2 linked regions of the Homo sapiens genome follow. The protein of the gene in region 2 interacts with the protein of the main gene of each other region in a pairwise test. Each region holds a gene or a part of one and is shown on either strand. Other genes may lie near its edges.

What was found.
Region 1: the proteins of TXN2 (region 2) and ANKRD36B interact in binary tests that used the Homo sapiens proteins (3 or more experiments, as listed by UniProt).

The regions. Positions count from the first base shown.
Region 1 is NC_000002.12:97,579,424-97,587,535, forward strand, and holds part of ANKRD36B (ankyrin repeat domain-containing protein 36B), read right to left. Parts: intron 5,976-8,112; coding exon 5,861-5,975; intron 5,695-5,860; coding exon 5,521-5,694; coding exon of another isoform or gene 5,515-5,520; exon of another isoform or gene 5,088-5,514; intron 1,146-5,087; coding exon 1,039-1,145; intron 1-1,038.
Region 2 is NC_000022.11:36,478,565-36,486,886, forward strand, and holds the start of TXN2 (thioredoxin, mitochondrial precursor), read right to left. Parts: upstream 3,077-8,322; 5' UTR 3,000-3,076; exon of another isoform or gene 2,579-2,999; intron 2,274-2,578; coding exon 2,011-2,273; intron 1-2,010.

The DNA of each region.
Region 1 (8,112 bases), on a different chromosome or scaffold from region 2:
CAGGCTTAAAACAATAATATTAATAGGAATGCTAATAGTAGTAGTCATAGCTTCAGTTAATGATGCTCATAAGCATGTGCTAGGCATTTAATTAAACACTATATATATATATATATGGAGGATAATAATATATCCTTCAAGGGTGGTTGTGTATAAGTAATATCACATATATATAAAATATATATAGTATATTATATATAATCTATAAAATATATAATATATAGTATATTATATATTATCTATAAATATATATTGTATATATTATATATTATATATGATGTTAGTTACATTATATTCTTACATACATATGTGTGTATATATATTATATGCACATACTTATATGCTCAGCCATTGTTTCCAAAACATCAGCACCTTGCTCTGTTAGCTGGACATTCTAACATTATATATATATAATGTTACTTACACACAACCACCCTTGAAGGATATATTATTACCCTCCTTTTCACAGAAGAAAACATACTTGGTAAGTAATGTTACCAAGGTCACACATCTAGCAAGTGGGAAAGCTAGGGATTAAACCCAGTCCTGTGTGAACCTAAAGCTTGTCTTCATTGAAGTAAAGTTTTATCCATCTAAAGCTATCTTTTTTCCCCCTCCCCATATCAATTAAAAACAACATCAAAACACAGTAGAAATGAAAAACTAACATGAAACCCCTTTAGCTAATGTAAGATCATACAATCAAAAGCATCACATTATTACATTGTAAATAACACCACATCATCTTACAAATAACAAACATCTATCAATATACAGAGCTTTCTATATATAGAAGCCTTTTATGTGTATAATGTCTATAGAGAGAGATGAATCCTGCTATACACTGTTCTTTATGTTACTCAGTCCAAATAATTGTTTTTCTACCTAAGTGATGATCTGTGTTGATATTTCTCACTATATCCCAGTAATTAAAAGTTAGTCTTCTTACTAATGTAATATTTGTGACTTGAGTGACTGCTACCACTCTAAAATGACACTCAGGTTTAAAAACAACACAATAAGAACTAAGGTCTGTACCTGCCAAGATAATCAATGGCATTTACATTTGCTTTTTTCTTTAATAAAAATTCCACCATTTTCACTTTTCTTCGACTCACAGCAAGTAACAGTGGCTGATATTCATTCTGTAAAATAACAGCAACAATTTATAATCACAAAATTACATATTTATCAACTGAAATGAAAACCTTATGTAAGATCCTGTGAGCTTCAATATATACAATTGAAAGGTCGTAAGAGGTAGTCCCTTTCTTTTCCCTCCTCGGTGCTTTTCTATGTTCTGCTCCTTCCCCTGGAAACAACCTCCTCTGCCTCACCACAAGAACTCTGGTCATCTCCAAAACTCACTTCAAACATTTCCCAGTTCCAAGAATCTTTGCTTCTGTCCCAGCATTTAGCATGGCATGTTTCAAGGATTTAATTGTTTCCCACCTGAACCAAGAGCTTCTTGAGGGCAGCAGCTGTATTTTTTTCTCTATGTCCTCAAACTCTAAGACACAGTAATAAATGTTTCAGGTATTTTTATTAATGATCTAAATTATTATCTATAGAGCGGTGTTTCTTAAACTATTAATATATTCCAAAGGATATTTACTTTACCAGAATTTGAACATTATACCCCAAAAGAGAGACTCCATGATCACCCATGTTTGAAAAATGTTACAAAACTGTGCATTATGTGTCTAGTATTTGAGAAATCTTTTGAACTTCACCTAATCCCTATTTGTAAATACTTATTTTGGAGAATGTTAACATTTGAGAAATGAGAGTTTCAGGGATACAGTTGTGAGAGCTTACCAGTAAAGGTAGAGGTTTCCTCTGGGTGATACACACTTGCCTCATTCTCTTCTATCGATGGTGTGAGAATCTCAGGTGACAATGTCAGGAGCTCCTGAGCACCTGAGCACCTGACATTGTCATCTGAGATTCTGACACGATTGACAGTTCATTTGAAGCCTATCTCTTTTTAATTCGGAGAGCCGGGCTCTGAATTAATAGAGATAGGCTTCGAGTGAACTTTCACTGCTTATTATTAAATAGTCCATGGGTTTTCTCTAGTAATATTTTTATCTTAGCTGTCAGAAAGCTCTGTATGAAATGTTATTCTCAATTACAATCTTAGGACCCTGATGCAAATATTTATGTAATTATAATCTTAGGACCCTGGTACATAACTCCTTTAAAAATCTATTTGTATTCTAGTTTCCAATTCATTCTTACCTAACTTATTTTATTTTAGGTAAAATATCAATCAGAAATAAAAATACAATGGCTTATCAATTAAAGCTCTAATAATGACCTATATGAATTATTTATAGCATAATGAAAACCACTAAATTATTTGCATCATTTATTTATTTATTTATTTATTTATTTGAGATGGAGTCTCGCTCTGTCACCCAGGCTGGAGTGCAGTGGTGCCATCTCGGCTCACTGCAACCTCCGCCTCCCGGATTCAAGCACGAGAAATTCTCCTGCCTCAGCCTCCCGAGTAGCTGGGACTACAGGCGTGTGCCACCACACCCAGCTAATTTTTTGTATTTGTAGTAGAGAGGGGGTTTCACCGTGTTAGCCAGGATGGTCTCAATCTTCTGACCTCGTGATCTACCTGCCTCTGCCTCCCAAAGTGCTAGGATTACAGGCGTGAGCCACTGCGCTCGGCCAATTACTTGCATTTTTAGGAGGCAATGCTGAAGAGAAAAATATAATGTTGTCTGCAATATGCATAACCTATGCAACTATACCATGATTCACCTTAAAAAGCTTACATGCATTCTAATGGGAAGATGATTATTTATGGTATGTATAAATAGTTTATAAAACACCACCATCTAAATTCAAAAGTTCAACCCGATTACCAAAGGATTTATATAAAATATAGACTCTACATTTAAATAAATATAAAATGTCTTGAAAACCTTGAAATATTTACTAAAATATATTATAAAACAGGGCTTGTAAAGTCATCCCTACAGAGGCAAGGGAGATGACCTGAGGAAGTGAAGTACCTAGGTAGGCACAGTAGCAAAATGGAGACCACATGCCTCATAGAAAGGGGCAACCTCTGCACAGCATCCAAAACCTGAGATAGGCTCAAGGGACACCAGATTGGATTCTTGAAGAGAAGCTTGGAATCCAGATCTGTGCACGAGTCTCCTAAACCTTCCATGTTGAGACAATTTGTAGACGCAAACTAAACACATGTATGGGACACATTTGGACTATATACCTTGTATTTTTATATTTGCTATGGATATGTCTCCAAGCGATTGTATGTAAAGCAAGTATTTTCATGTAAAATACTTCCTTTCTTTAGTTTCAGATTTTTTTTCCAAAATAGGCCCAAGAATGCAATAAAAATTGTTACTAAGAGTCATAATACCCACTTTGAGCACTTTTACAACATTCATTCATTTATAATTTATGTTTAATTTTCCCAGATTGTTCACCAAATGGATAATTAGTTCATAGGACTGCTGCAACTAAATTATTAAAATAATATTAAATTATAATTCTAGTTTCTATATTGTAACCTAATTTTTTTTATTTTAGGTAAAATATAAATCAGAAATAAAAATACAATGGCTTATCAATTAAAGCTCTAATAATGACCTATATGTATTCTTTGTATTCTTACTAACTTCATGGTTTTCAGTGTTTAAAACTGCTATCCTGATTATGCCACAGTTCTATGTACTTAACTGACATACTGAGGCAGTCCATAATAGAGCTTCAGCTTTAAAAAAAGGTTTAGAATTTTTTGCTATTGTAATTGAGAGAACCCCGCTTTTAATAATGATGTATTGACCTAATCACCAGAATGATAACAAAGAGACTCAGAGTCCTGAAAGAGTCAGTCTCTACTTATTAAAAGAGTCCACAATAGCAAATTTCTAATGACCCTATGAATGGCAGTGAATAAGTGATGGTGGCAAAGAAAAGGTGTTATTCTTATGCTGATAGATACTGCAAATAATAGTCCTTTCCACTTCCCAACCACAGAGGTAGAGACAGGTAAAAGTCAGGCCAATATTATTGGAAAGGAGAAATTTAAAGGAAGCAGCACCTATCTCCAGCTCTTCTAGAGATTTTTTGTGTGTTTGAGATATGGGAATTTATATTACACTTATCTATTCAGTGGTTCTTAACCAGCAGCGTATCAGTGTCCCAAGAAATGTTTTATTGTTGTTGTTGTTGTTGTGTTGTTGCTGTTAGAGGCAGTGTCTTAATCTGTTGCTCTGGCTAGAGGCACCACCATGCCCAGCTTCAAGGAAATATTTTAAAACATACATGCCCAGTAATATTTAATAGTAAATATTAGATTTACTATATTAAAATCTTCAGGGGATATCCTAGACTTAGAGATTTGCTTTTAATTTCCCCAGGTTACTGCCATGCACAATTCTAACTGCGAACCAGCACAGTTGATAATCACTTCAGTCTCATTTCTCACCCACGTGGCAAATTCCCTTTATCGTTTGGGATTTGGCCGAAAAGAGGAAAGAGCAAAAGATAGAGCCATTCACTGAAGACTTCATTTACTTTTCCTGGGTAGGGGTAGGGAAGAGACTAGTAAGCTCAAAATCCAACTTGATTTTACTATTTATAAGCTCCGTATCTCCCACCTGCCCATCAAGACATTCTGGACTTGAGAGTAGAGTTTAGATGCTTATCTGAGTGGCTGTTTCTGCCAGAATTGAATAATGTCCATTAATTATGTGTTCTTCTCTCTGCTGAACTGTGTGCCGCTTCATCACCACTATTCACTGCCAACCTGGTTTCCTCAGAGTCTTACCAAAATTGATCCCTGGGCAATTTCACAACTCACAAACTCTTTCCCAAAGTAAGAATAATCATCCCCAAAACTGAAGCGATCTTTGTCTAAACATATAAATTGAAAACAAACAACAAAACACACAAAAACCCTCTCCACAGTATTTTCCCTCATTACCTAATTTCCAAATTAGCTTGTGCATTTCTGATTGCTCTCCTTTTCTTCATTTTTCCCTCTTAAGCCTTTCCACAGAGGAATCACTTTCAAATGAAATCACCTTCACATACAACACTTGTCAACAGCAACAACATGTACATTTATTGTGAAATTCTTTAATTTTCTTTGACATTTAAAATAAAGCCTATTTATAAGGGACAATTTTACTTTCCTGTGTCACTTCACACTGATTAGAAAAAAAGTAATTTAGTGGAAAAACACTTAACTATTACCTTTCCCAAATTCAGTTGTCATGAATTATAAATTTATTGTAATTCATTTGTTTTTATAGTTATTTACCATAAGTGCATGAAAAAAGGCTGTTCCCTATAATGCTTCTTTAAAAGTTCCAATATTTAAAGTAAAATCTTAGACAGTTAAGGCATTTCAAAATATTTTCATTCAAGGAATGTTTGAGCTTCCAAATATGAAAAATTGACCCTTACATGTGTCAATGTTAAAATAAATGCATTTCAGATAGTTTGAAAATAACATTGGTTGACCTATACCTTGCTGCATTCTTCAATATTTGTACCATGTGAAAGAAGTTTTTCTATCATGGATGTATCTTCATTATACACAGCGTAGTGCAGAGCAGTCCTTCCAAAGACATCCGTAATATTTGGATCGGCGCCATTTTGCAGCAGAAGAGTTGCACAAGCCTCCTGCCTCAGTTGTACAGCCTGTCAGTATTAGACCGAGAAACATGCAAATACTGAAAAAATCAAAATAAACACTCCGTAGGATTTCCTACTAGTTATATGGTGGTATTCCAATGAGATAAATTCATTTTATCCTATGTACTTCAACCAAATCCATCTCATGCTCAAAGAGTCAGCTACTATGTACCTTGATCAGAGGTGTCCTGTCTTCACGGTCGCAGAGGTTAAGCTCACATCTTCTGGACACCAGGAGATGTACCATTTCCGGTTGGCCAGTGGCACAGGCCAAATGTAGGGCAGTCCTGTGAGAGTGACAGGACTTTTTAAAACATGTAACTGTAAGCATTAATTAGCATGTTATTTCTCTGTCTTCAAAACAAATATGTAATTTTCTTGTGAAGAAAGTACAACATTTGTTAGCGCTTATTACTCACCACATTAATGAAAGAGCAGGCTATTTAATAGAAAAGGCTTGGCTTTTGGATTCAGTTTAATTGGGGCTTAAAATTTACTGTAAGCTCTGTCACTTAGCTGTTATTTAGCCTTTCTTTGCTTCAATTTCCTTATCAATAAAATATGTAAGAGAATAGTAGCTAGCCCACAGAACACTGCTGTGATGCTTACATAAGAATCTATGCACAGCATTTAGAACACTTTCTAACACAAATAACAGCTCAATAATTTTTAGATATCACTACTTACAAAGACAAAGACATTTTAATTAAGTAAAATGATACAATCATATCTACATTGAGGTATCTATTAAAGATTAGATGTATCATTGTATTTCAGTCATTCTCAGATGCTCATTTTCTCACTATTCTCTTATATAAGCTACTATTCTCTTATATATTAACATCTCCTGACATTGGAAAACTGTTTACAATTCATTATTTATTACATTTATAACTGGCAACATTTTAAACATTATCTTATCGATATATAAAGTAATGTGGCATCACCCAATCCGTGATGCCTTACATTAAGTGGGATACAGTTCATAGAACAGGCAGTTCTATTCATATAATTGGCACCTAAATGAAGTACTGTGGAAAAAGAAGGCAAAAATAAAAAAACAAATTTTTAAAACAAAGTAATTCTTACTTCAACTTTCAAAAAAAAATAATCCAAAGAAAACTCAGGATTCAAATGAATAGGTATGGCTCATTTTTTTCAATACTTACAGAATGTTATGTAAATTAGGTATTTGCAATGATTAATAGTAGTATTTGAGACTGTCATAAGTTTTTGAAATGGCAGTTAAAGGTTATCTTTCACTATTTTCTAACTTCAGAATTGCTTTTGTTTAAAAAAAAAAAAAGGAATAAAAGATCCAACTGGGATTCAGTCCTAATGCTTCCATTTTAAATCTCAGCTTGCTCAGGCTGGGCAGGTAAACATGAAGTTGTTAAGGGTGGAAGAGTCCTGAGAGATGGTGGAATGTGTCTGCTACATAATAGGTATTCAGGTTATGCTTGATGAATAACTGGATTGAAAGAATGCATACATACAGTTGGGAAGTTTATTGTGAAAAAAACTATAAATTAAAGCAGTGCTTTTGGAATAGTGATAATCACTTATATTTGCTCATTTTCATTTTCATGAGGACACTGATAAACTAAAATAATTAATTTAAAATTGTTTCCTTATATGTAATAAAACTATAATAAAAACTTATGTATATACTAAAATCTATGCATAATAAAATAATCAAGCACAAATAAAAATATTCCCTCTGCCTCTGAAGAGGCTAAAAGTTCACAGAAGATACCAATAAACAAAAAAATAAAAATAAGGCCAGGCACAGTGGCTCACACCTGTAATCCCAGAACTTTGGGAGGCCGAGGCGGGGGGATCACCTGAGGTCAGGAGTTTGAGACCAGCCTGGTCAACATGGTGAAACCCCGTCTTTACTAAAATATACAAAAATTAGCTGGGCATGGTGGCGCACACCTGTAATCCCAGCTACTCAGGAGGCTGAGGTGGGAGAATCACTTGAACCTGAGAGGCAGATTGCAGTGAGCTGAGATCATGCCACTGCACTGCAGGCTGGGCGACAGGGTGAGACTCCATCTCAAAAATAAACAAACAAACGAAGAAATTAATAATAAAATAGAAACTGAGAATTTTTTTTCTTTGCAAGATTTATATTTCTTCTTTTCCCAAGGATAATTTCATTAATAAAAAACATTTACTAGAAGTTTTAAACATGCTGATCATTTATACATCACAGATAAGAAAAAATATCACAATACACCTGCCAGAAAAGAAGAAATGTTATATTTTGTACACATATTTGGCTTACTAACACCATAGATTGTTTGTGTGTATGTATAATCAAACCAACTTTTTTTCAGAGTACATCTTCACACCTCAACATACATCTGTATCTACTGACATCTGCAAAGGTCCCATATTGTCCCATCCTATGGATGCACT
Region 2 (8,322 bases):
CTGCAACTTCCGCCTCCCGGGTTCAAGCAATTCTCCTGCCTCAGCCTCCTGAGTAGCAGGTGTGGTGGTGCACACCGCACCCAGCCAGGCCTGACGGTTTTAAATGCTGAAAAATAGGCCGGGCATAATGGCTCACACCTGTAATCCTAGCACTCTGGGAGGCCAAGGCGGGAGAGAATCACCTGTGGTCAGGAGTTTGAGAGACTAGCCTGGCCAATATGGTGAAACCCCGTCTCTACTAAAAATACAAAAAAATTATCTGGGTGGTAGTCCCAACTACTTGGGAGGCTGAGGCAGGAAAATTGTTTTAACTCGGGAGGTGGAGGTTGCAGTGAGCTGACTGAACCACTGCAGTCCAGCCTGGGTGACAGAATGAGACTCTGTCTCAAAAACAAAAAAGGAAAAAAAACCCTCAGGCCTGGCGCAGTGGTTCATGCCTGTAATCCTAGCACTTTGGGAGGCCAAGGTGGGAGGATTGCTTGAGATCAGGAGGTAGAGACTGCAGTGAGCCGTGATCGCACCACTGCACTCTACATTCTAGCCTGGGTGACAGAGTGAGACCTTGTCTCTAAAAGAAGAAAAACAAAAACAACTCATAACACTGAAAAACCCAGTGTGCAAGACCTTATCTCCTATTACAAGTGAAGAAAGGGAGCACAAAGATATCAAGTGGCCTGCCCAAGGCCACAGGGTGAGTCAGAGAAACAACTGGAAAGCCAGCGAAACAATCTGTCAGAGACCTGACCAGAAGGCCCTTCAATTTCTTTTTCTTTTTTTTTTTTTTTGAGATGGAGTTTCCCTCTGTCACCCAGGCTGGAGTGCAATGGCGCGATCTCAGCTCACTGCAACCTCCACCTCCCAGGTTCAAGCGATTCTCCTGCCTCAGCCTCTTGGGTAGCTGGGATTACAGGTGCCCGCCACCACGCCCGATTAATTTTTGTATTTTTGGTAGAGATGGGGTTTCACTATGTTGGCTGGGCAGGTCTCAAACTCCTGACCTCAGGTAATCCACCTGCCTCGGCCTCTGAAAGTGCTGGGATTACAGGTGTGAGCCACTGCGTCCGACCTGAAGGCCCCTGAATTTTTAACTTATGCTACACTGGTTTCTCCCAGGATGCCTCATTCAGAGGGCTTTGTCCAGCTTTTGTGTAGTTGGGTGTCTAGCCAGGCCCCAAAGATCTAGAAATGAAAAAGCCCAGGCTAAAATTCAGAAGGCCAGAGGGACTTAAATATCTCTAAAGCAAACTCAGATAGCACTGAAAGGAAACTCCTTCCTATGCCCTGTATGCTTGGGCACCACGGTAGTGACACCGATAACTTTTTTTTTTTTTTTTTGAGATGGAATTTCACTCTTTTTGCCCAGGCTGGAGTGTAATGGCGCGATCTTCAGCTCACTACAAACACTACCTCTTAGGTTCAAGTGATTCTCCTGCCTCAGCCTCCCGAGTAGCTGGGATTACAGGCACACACCACCACGCCTAGCTAATTTTGTATTTTTAATAGAGACAGGGTATCACCATGTTGGCCAGGCTGGTCTTGAACTCCTGACCTCAGGTGATCTGCCCGCCTTGGCCTCCCAAAGTGCTGGGATTACAGGCATGAGCCACCGCACCCGGCCGACACTGATAACTTTTTGCCAGCCCTTCTTGCGGTTTTCATGGCAGGATGTTAACATCAGCTTATCTGCAGGGCCAGGAACTGGTATACACCAAAAGCAAGGTGACAGTCATATTTTTCCAACTCTGGTCCATGCTAAAGATGACGCTGAGCTTTCTGGGGATTGAGAAACAGAACATGTGTTTCCCAGCACTAACAGTCAGCTTTGCAGACTGTTCACTTGTCTGTCTTCCACCAGACTGCATTCCCCTTGAGGGCAGGGACTGGGCCTGACCAGTCTGTATATTGAGTCTACATATGAGCAGCATAGAACATGGCCGTGGGACACAGCAGGCATTCAATAAATACTTGAACAAGTAGGACCCTAGTCTTCTGTGGACCCCCAATACTCACTGTGCGTGGAAATCCACAACCACTGGTGTCTCACTGTTGACCACTCGGTCTTGAAAGTCAGGTCCATCCTGGATATTAAAGGTTGTCAAGGAGATCCTCGTGGTGTATATTGTCCGGGCTGGGTTGGGTGTTACAGTCAGGCCACCAGGACTGCATTGTGGGGTCTGCAGGGCTCTGGAAGTGAGGGGTGGCCACTGACCCTGAGAGGGCTTCCTGGAGATGACAGAGGCCAGGAACCTCCTCAGAAGAAGTCGCTGAGCCATCTGTGAGGGAAAGAGGCAGAAGAACTGGGGCACACAAAAGGAAGTCGACACACTAGAAAAAGATTTGGGGAGTACTCAGGGCTCAGGAAGAGGCAGAGTTGGAAGCAAAATGCAAGGAAATCATATGTAAGATTTGTAGCGTGGAAGTGAGGAAGCAATGAGAATCAAAGGGAAGGAACAGCTAGGCAAACCAGAAGGACAGGAAAACTGGCTTCACAACCAAAAAGAAATCGGGATTTAGATTATAACGGAAGAATGGGAGGAAGAAACCAACAGATTTAATAATGTATGTAAGGACCAAGTACCTTACACACATTATTGGTCTTCCTACAGCAACTTCCAGGAAGTTGCTATTGTACTGCCCACACTGCGAGTAAGGGAAGGAATACGAGGCTCAAGTAAGTTAAGTGACATGCCCAAAGTAACCCCGCTATTAAATGACAGCCAACACTGGAACCCAGGGTCGTCTGAAAAGATGAAACGCAACAATTCAAGGAGGAACTAAGAGTGTGAGAGGAACCAAAAACGAAGAGACATGTACTGGAGGGAACCAATAAAGAAGGGACATGTGTGGAGGGAACTGGGAAAAATCGGACATCACCAGGGACCCTGGCTCTCCGGCGAGCTAGATCCCCCCGCCCGCCCGGCCGCCAGCCTGCGCAGGAACGCGCTCGCGGCATGCCTCAGCCGCGACACCACCTCGAGCCACCCCCACAGGGCTCCTACCTCCCTGCAATGCGAGCGGAGGGATGCACAGCCTAGCCCTCCCTGCCTGTCAAGGGCACGCCTGTCGTCACTTCCTCGGGGGGGGACGTACATAACGTCACTTCCGGGTACAGGCAGGCGGAAGAGCGTCCCTCTCCAATTTTTTTTTTTTTTTTTTTTTTTTTTGAGCCAGAGTCTCGCTCTGTTGCCAGGCTGGGGTGCAGTGGCGCGATCTCGGCTCACTGCAACCTCCGCCTTCCGGGTTCAAGCGATTCTCCTGCCTCAGCCTCCCGACTAGAGGCGCGCGCCACCACGCCCAGCTAATTTTTTTATTTTTAGTAGAGACGGGGTTTCACCACGTTGGCCAGGACGGTCTCGATCTTTTGACCTCGTGATCCGCCCGCCTCGGCTTCTCAGAGGGTTGTGATTACGGGCGTGAGCCACAGCGCCCATCTGTCCCTCTCCAATTTGAGGGGCGTCTGGGATTTTCCGCCAATGGGAATGGCGGGCTGAGGCACAGTTGAAGGGGCGGGGCCTCAGCTACGGACCGGAAGCAATGGGCAGGCCGTCGGGGAACGGATTGGAAGAGGCGGGCGGGCCCTGGTCTGGGCGAAGGCGGGGGCGGGGCGGGGCGGAAACGGAAGGGGTGGGCGGGCCCTAGAGGAGGGACCGGAAGAGGAGGTGATGGAGCAGGGGTAGCAATGGAGGGTACTTAAGGGAGAAAAGGCAGTTGAGAAGTCCCCGTGGTTTTGGATTTTGCAAACTCTTGTTGCTTTATTTTATTTACATATATTTATTTATTAATGACAGAGTCTCGCTCTGTCTCCCAGGCTACAGTGCAGTGGCGTGATCTCCGCTCACTGCAACATCCAAATCCCGGGTTCAAGTGATTTTCCTGCCTCAGCCTCCCAGGTAGCTGGGATTACAGGCGCGCGCCACCACGCCGGGCTGATTTTTGTATTTTTAGTAGAGACGGAGTTTCGCCATGTTGGCCAGGCTGGTCTGGAACTCCTGAGCTCAAGTGATCCGCCCGCTTCAGCCTCCCAAAGTGCTGGGATTACAGGCGTGAGCCACCTTGCCTGGCCTCCTGTTTATAACTGGCGCTGTCCACTTCCTACAGATGTTGACAGGTTCTGTTTCTCCATTTAATATGTAAAGCTAAGCTCCTCAAAGGCATGATGCCCTTTATATGTAAAAGAACTCAACCGGGAGTTTAGGGGCCATCCTTTAAGTGGCCCTCGTCTGTGTCCGCCTAAAGGAAAACAAATGAAAACTGAGGCGAGCCTAATTTAAGCAGGGAGTTTTTTTGGGTCAAGTTCGAAGACTGCAACTCGGAGCAGAGATTCAAGTTGTCCTGAATATACACTCGGATTAGCAGCAGCTGAAAGAGCGTTTTTAAAAGAACAGGCAGTTTCCAAATTGTTGATCAAAGTTTTTTTTTTTTTTTTTTTTTTTTTTGAGACAGAGTCTCGCTCTTGTTGCCCAGGCTGGAGTGCAGTGGCGCGATCTCGGCTCACTGCAACCTCTGCCTCCTGGGTTCAAGGGATTCTTCTCCCTCTGCCTCCCCAGTAGCTGGGACTACAGGCGTGCCTCACCACGCCTAGCTAATTTTTATATTTTTAGTAGAGACGGAGTTTCACCATGTTGGCTAGGATGGTCTCGATCTATTGACCTCATGATCTGCCCACCTGGGCCTCCCAAAGTGCTGGAATTACAGGCGTGAGCCACTGCACCCAGCCTTTTTTTTTTTTTTTTTGAGACGGAGTCTTGCTCTGTAGCTAGGCTGGAGTGCAGTGGCATGATCTTGGCTCACCGCAACCTCCACCTCCAGGGTTCAAGGGATTCTCCTGCCTCAGCCCCCCAAGTACTTGGGATTACAGGCGAGCACCACCACACCTGGCTAATTTTTTATATTTTTGGTACAGAAATTTTATATTTCACCATGTTGGCCAGGCTGGTCTCGAACTCCTGACCTTAAGTTATCGCTCGCCTCGGCTTCCCAAAGTGCTGGGATAACAGGCGTGAGCCACCGCGCCTGGCCGCCCTGCCCATTTTTGTATCGGTTTTCTGTGTCTCTAGCACTTTCTTTTCCACAGCCACCTATCAATCCTATTCAGCACTTCCACAGTATTTTCTAGAGAGCCAATTTTCCTGCCTAATTCACATTCTGAATTTCACAGGCGGACCAGTCCTGTTTGTCCTTATGCCATAGTCACTTCACCCTGATCGGCCTCAGGCTTCTCATCTGAGCAATGGGAAGAATGCCTTTCTCATAGCTGGGCTGAGGGTTGCAGTAGAGACAGAATCCACATCATTGCTGCCTGATGACTCCTGCAGGGAAAGCCTGAGAGACACAGAGAAGGCTGAGCTCTCGGCGCGCTACAAAAGGGCTCTCAGCTACATGGTGGCTCCTCTGTCCAGCTAGAGCTGAGCTGGCCTGGGTCTGGCTTAGTCACAAGCAGGCTCAGGGCACAGCTGAGAGGCAAAGGGAAGGAAGCCAGGACTGGCAGCCTGGGCTAAGGGTAAAACTTCTACCTCCTACCAATATTTATTGCAGTGTTTTTCAAACTGCAGGATATGGACGTCAGTGGGTTTGCAAAATTAATTTAGTGGGTGGTGATCTGCTTTTTAAAAAAACAAACATGGTGCCAGGCGTGGTGGCTCACACCTGTAATCCCAGCACTTTGGGAGGCCAAGGCGGGCAGTTCACTTGAGGTCAGGAGTTCGAGACCAGCCTGGCCAACATGGTGAAACCCCATCTCTACTAAAAATACAAAAATTAGCCAAGCGTGGTGGTACACGCCTGTAGCCCCAGCTACTCGGGAGGCTGGGCAGGAGAATGGCGTGAACCCGGGAGGCGGAGCTTGCAGTGAGCCGAGATAGTGCCACTGCACTCTGGCCTGGGCGAAAGAGCAAGACTCTGTCTCAAAAAAAAAAAAAAAAAAAATAGCTCTAAGGTCTTGCACTAACCGGTATGACCTGTCTGGCGTCTTTACAGGCAGTATTGGAATGTTATAGGGAGACATACAGGGTTTAAGAAATCCATCACGGAGAAGACCTTCAATTATCAATTATAGGTTTTAAATTTACCTCGGCTTTGAAAGGAATAGGATACATTGCTTTCTCTTTACTACTTCCCCAGGGGTTTGTAATTTAACATGAAACTGAGTAATCTGTAACTTTCCTCGATTCTCGTCTTTTGACCATACCTTGGGATGAATGAGTTCTTTGTCTGTGGTGGGGAGCAAGTTTAGGGAGGGGAGGAATCTTCCCTGATTAATATAGAGGCCTAAGCCAAATTTTAGCATTAAATCTCTCTAATAGGTTTGTTCCTGCCTCTGGAATAAACAGAAATTTAATATTAGCTGATTTGCTTTTATATATGACTTTTGTTCTTTTTCCCATTTGGGACATTTTCTTTTGAAGTGACCTATTTTTAATCTGAAACATTTATTTTGTCCTCTTTCTCTCCCTTTGCCTCTCCCTCTCTGCCTCTTTTTCTCTCTCACTCTTTCTCTTTGCCTCTCTCTCTGCCTCTCTCTTCCTCTTTGACTCTCTCCCTTTGCCTTTCTCTCTGCCTCTCTCTTTCCCTTTTTGCCTGTCTCTCTCTCTTTGACTCTGTCTGTTCTGTCAGTCTTTCTCTCTCCTCTAAGTTTTTTTTTTCTTTACTTTTGAGTCTCCTGGCTTTACTCTTTCATACTCTATATATTGCCTGGAGAGTGGGGGTCTAGGTTCTTTTTTTTTTTTTTTTTTTTTTTTTGAGACGGAGTCTCGCTCTGTCGCCCAGGCTGGAGTGTAGTGGCGCGATCTTGGCTCACTGCAACCTCCGCCTCCTGGGTTCACGCCATTCTCCTGCCTCAGCCTCCCGAGTAGCTGGGACTACAGGCGCCCACCACCATGCCCGGCTGCTTTTTTTTAGTAGAGACGGGGTTTCACCGTGTTAGCCAGGATGGTCTTGGTCTCCTGACCTCGTGATCCGCTCGCCTTGGCCTCCCAAAGTGCTGGGATTACAGGCGTGAGCCGCCGCGCCCAGCCCTCAGTCTAGGTTCTTTATAGGTTCTGGCCCCCTGGGTACTTTGTTGTATGGTAGACAGCAGAATTTTTGCCTTCTGCTTTTGTTTTTCATCATCTTTTCTTATATATACCTTTTGGGCTTCTCTTAGAAGCTCTTCTATAGGTTTATCTTTCCAGTTCTCTATCTTTTGTAATTTCTTGTTAATATCTGGCCAACTGTTAGTGACAAAATGAAGTTTTAACATTCCCTGCCCAAGAGGATCCTTGAGACCTAGACCAGTGTATTTTCTCATTTGTTCCTTTAATCTATCTAAAAATTCTATAGGCCCTTCATCTTTCCCTTGCTGTATATCAAATATTCGGGTAAGATACTGAGTTCGGGGTACCAATTTTTTTTTTTTTTTTGAGATGGAGCCTTGCTCTGTTGCTCAGGCTAGAGTGCTGGAGTGCAGTGGCGTGATCTCGGCTCACTGCAAGCTCCGCCTTCTGGGTTCACGCCATTCTCCTGCCTCAGCCTCCTGAGTAGCTGGGACTAAAGGCGCCTGCCACTATGCCCAGCTAATTTTTTTGTATTTTTTAGTAGAGACGGGGTTTCACTGTGTTGGCCAGGATGGTCTCGATCTCCTGACCTTGTGATCTGCCTGCCTCGGCCTCCCAAAGTGCTGGGATTACAGGCGTGAGCCACTGCGCCCAGCCTCGGGGTACTGATGCTTTAATCCCCTTTATTATCAATTCCTTAAGGTCCTGCATATTTTCTCGGTGGGCTGCGTTGTTATTGTCCCACTGGGGGTCTTGGGTGGGAGTTTTTTGATCTGCTGTAGGAACGTTTTGGCCAGGAGGGTGTTCGTGTTCCTAGGCTCCCATAGCAGCTCTATGGATCATGTCTCTTTCTTCCCCCGAGAAGAGGGGAAAGGGAAATTCTGAATATCTTTTTTACATTGCTCTATCTCACGTTGAAGTCCTTTAAGGGAAAGGTACTTAGGTCGGTAGTGAGTGGGCTCTTGGGACGATTCTCAAGAGGCAGGGTTGTAAGAAAGGGGACATCAGAGATAGGAGAAGGGTCTGGGACAGCAGCTGCTTTTGTTTTTGGTCCTTTCATTATCCTTCTAACATTTTAACATTAGGCCTGGGGGAATATTACTGTTGCTAGCTTTCTCCTTTTTATCTCTTACCTTACTTGGGGCATTTCCCATCTTGGGTCCTGGTTAAGCTCAATCTCCCCTGTTGGAGATGTCTCGCCTATCCTTTAGCCCCACCTGCTGGAGGCTCCTTGCATTCATGCACACTTTCAACCCCCAGAATATCCTGACCACCAAGGAAATACTTTGTC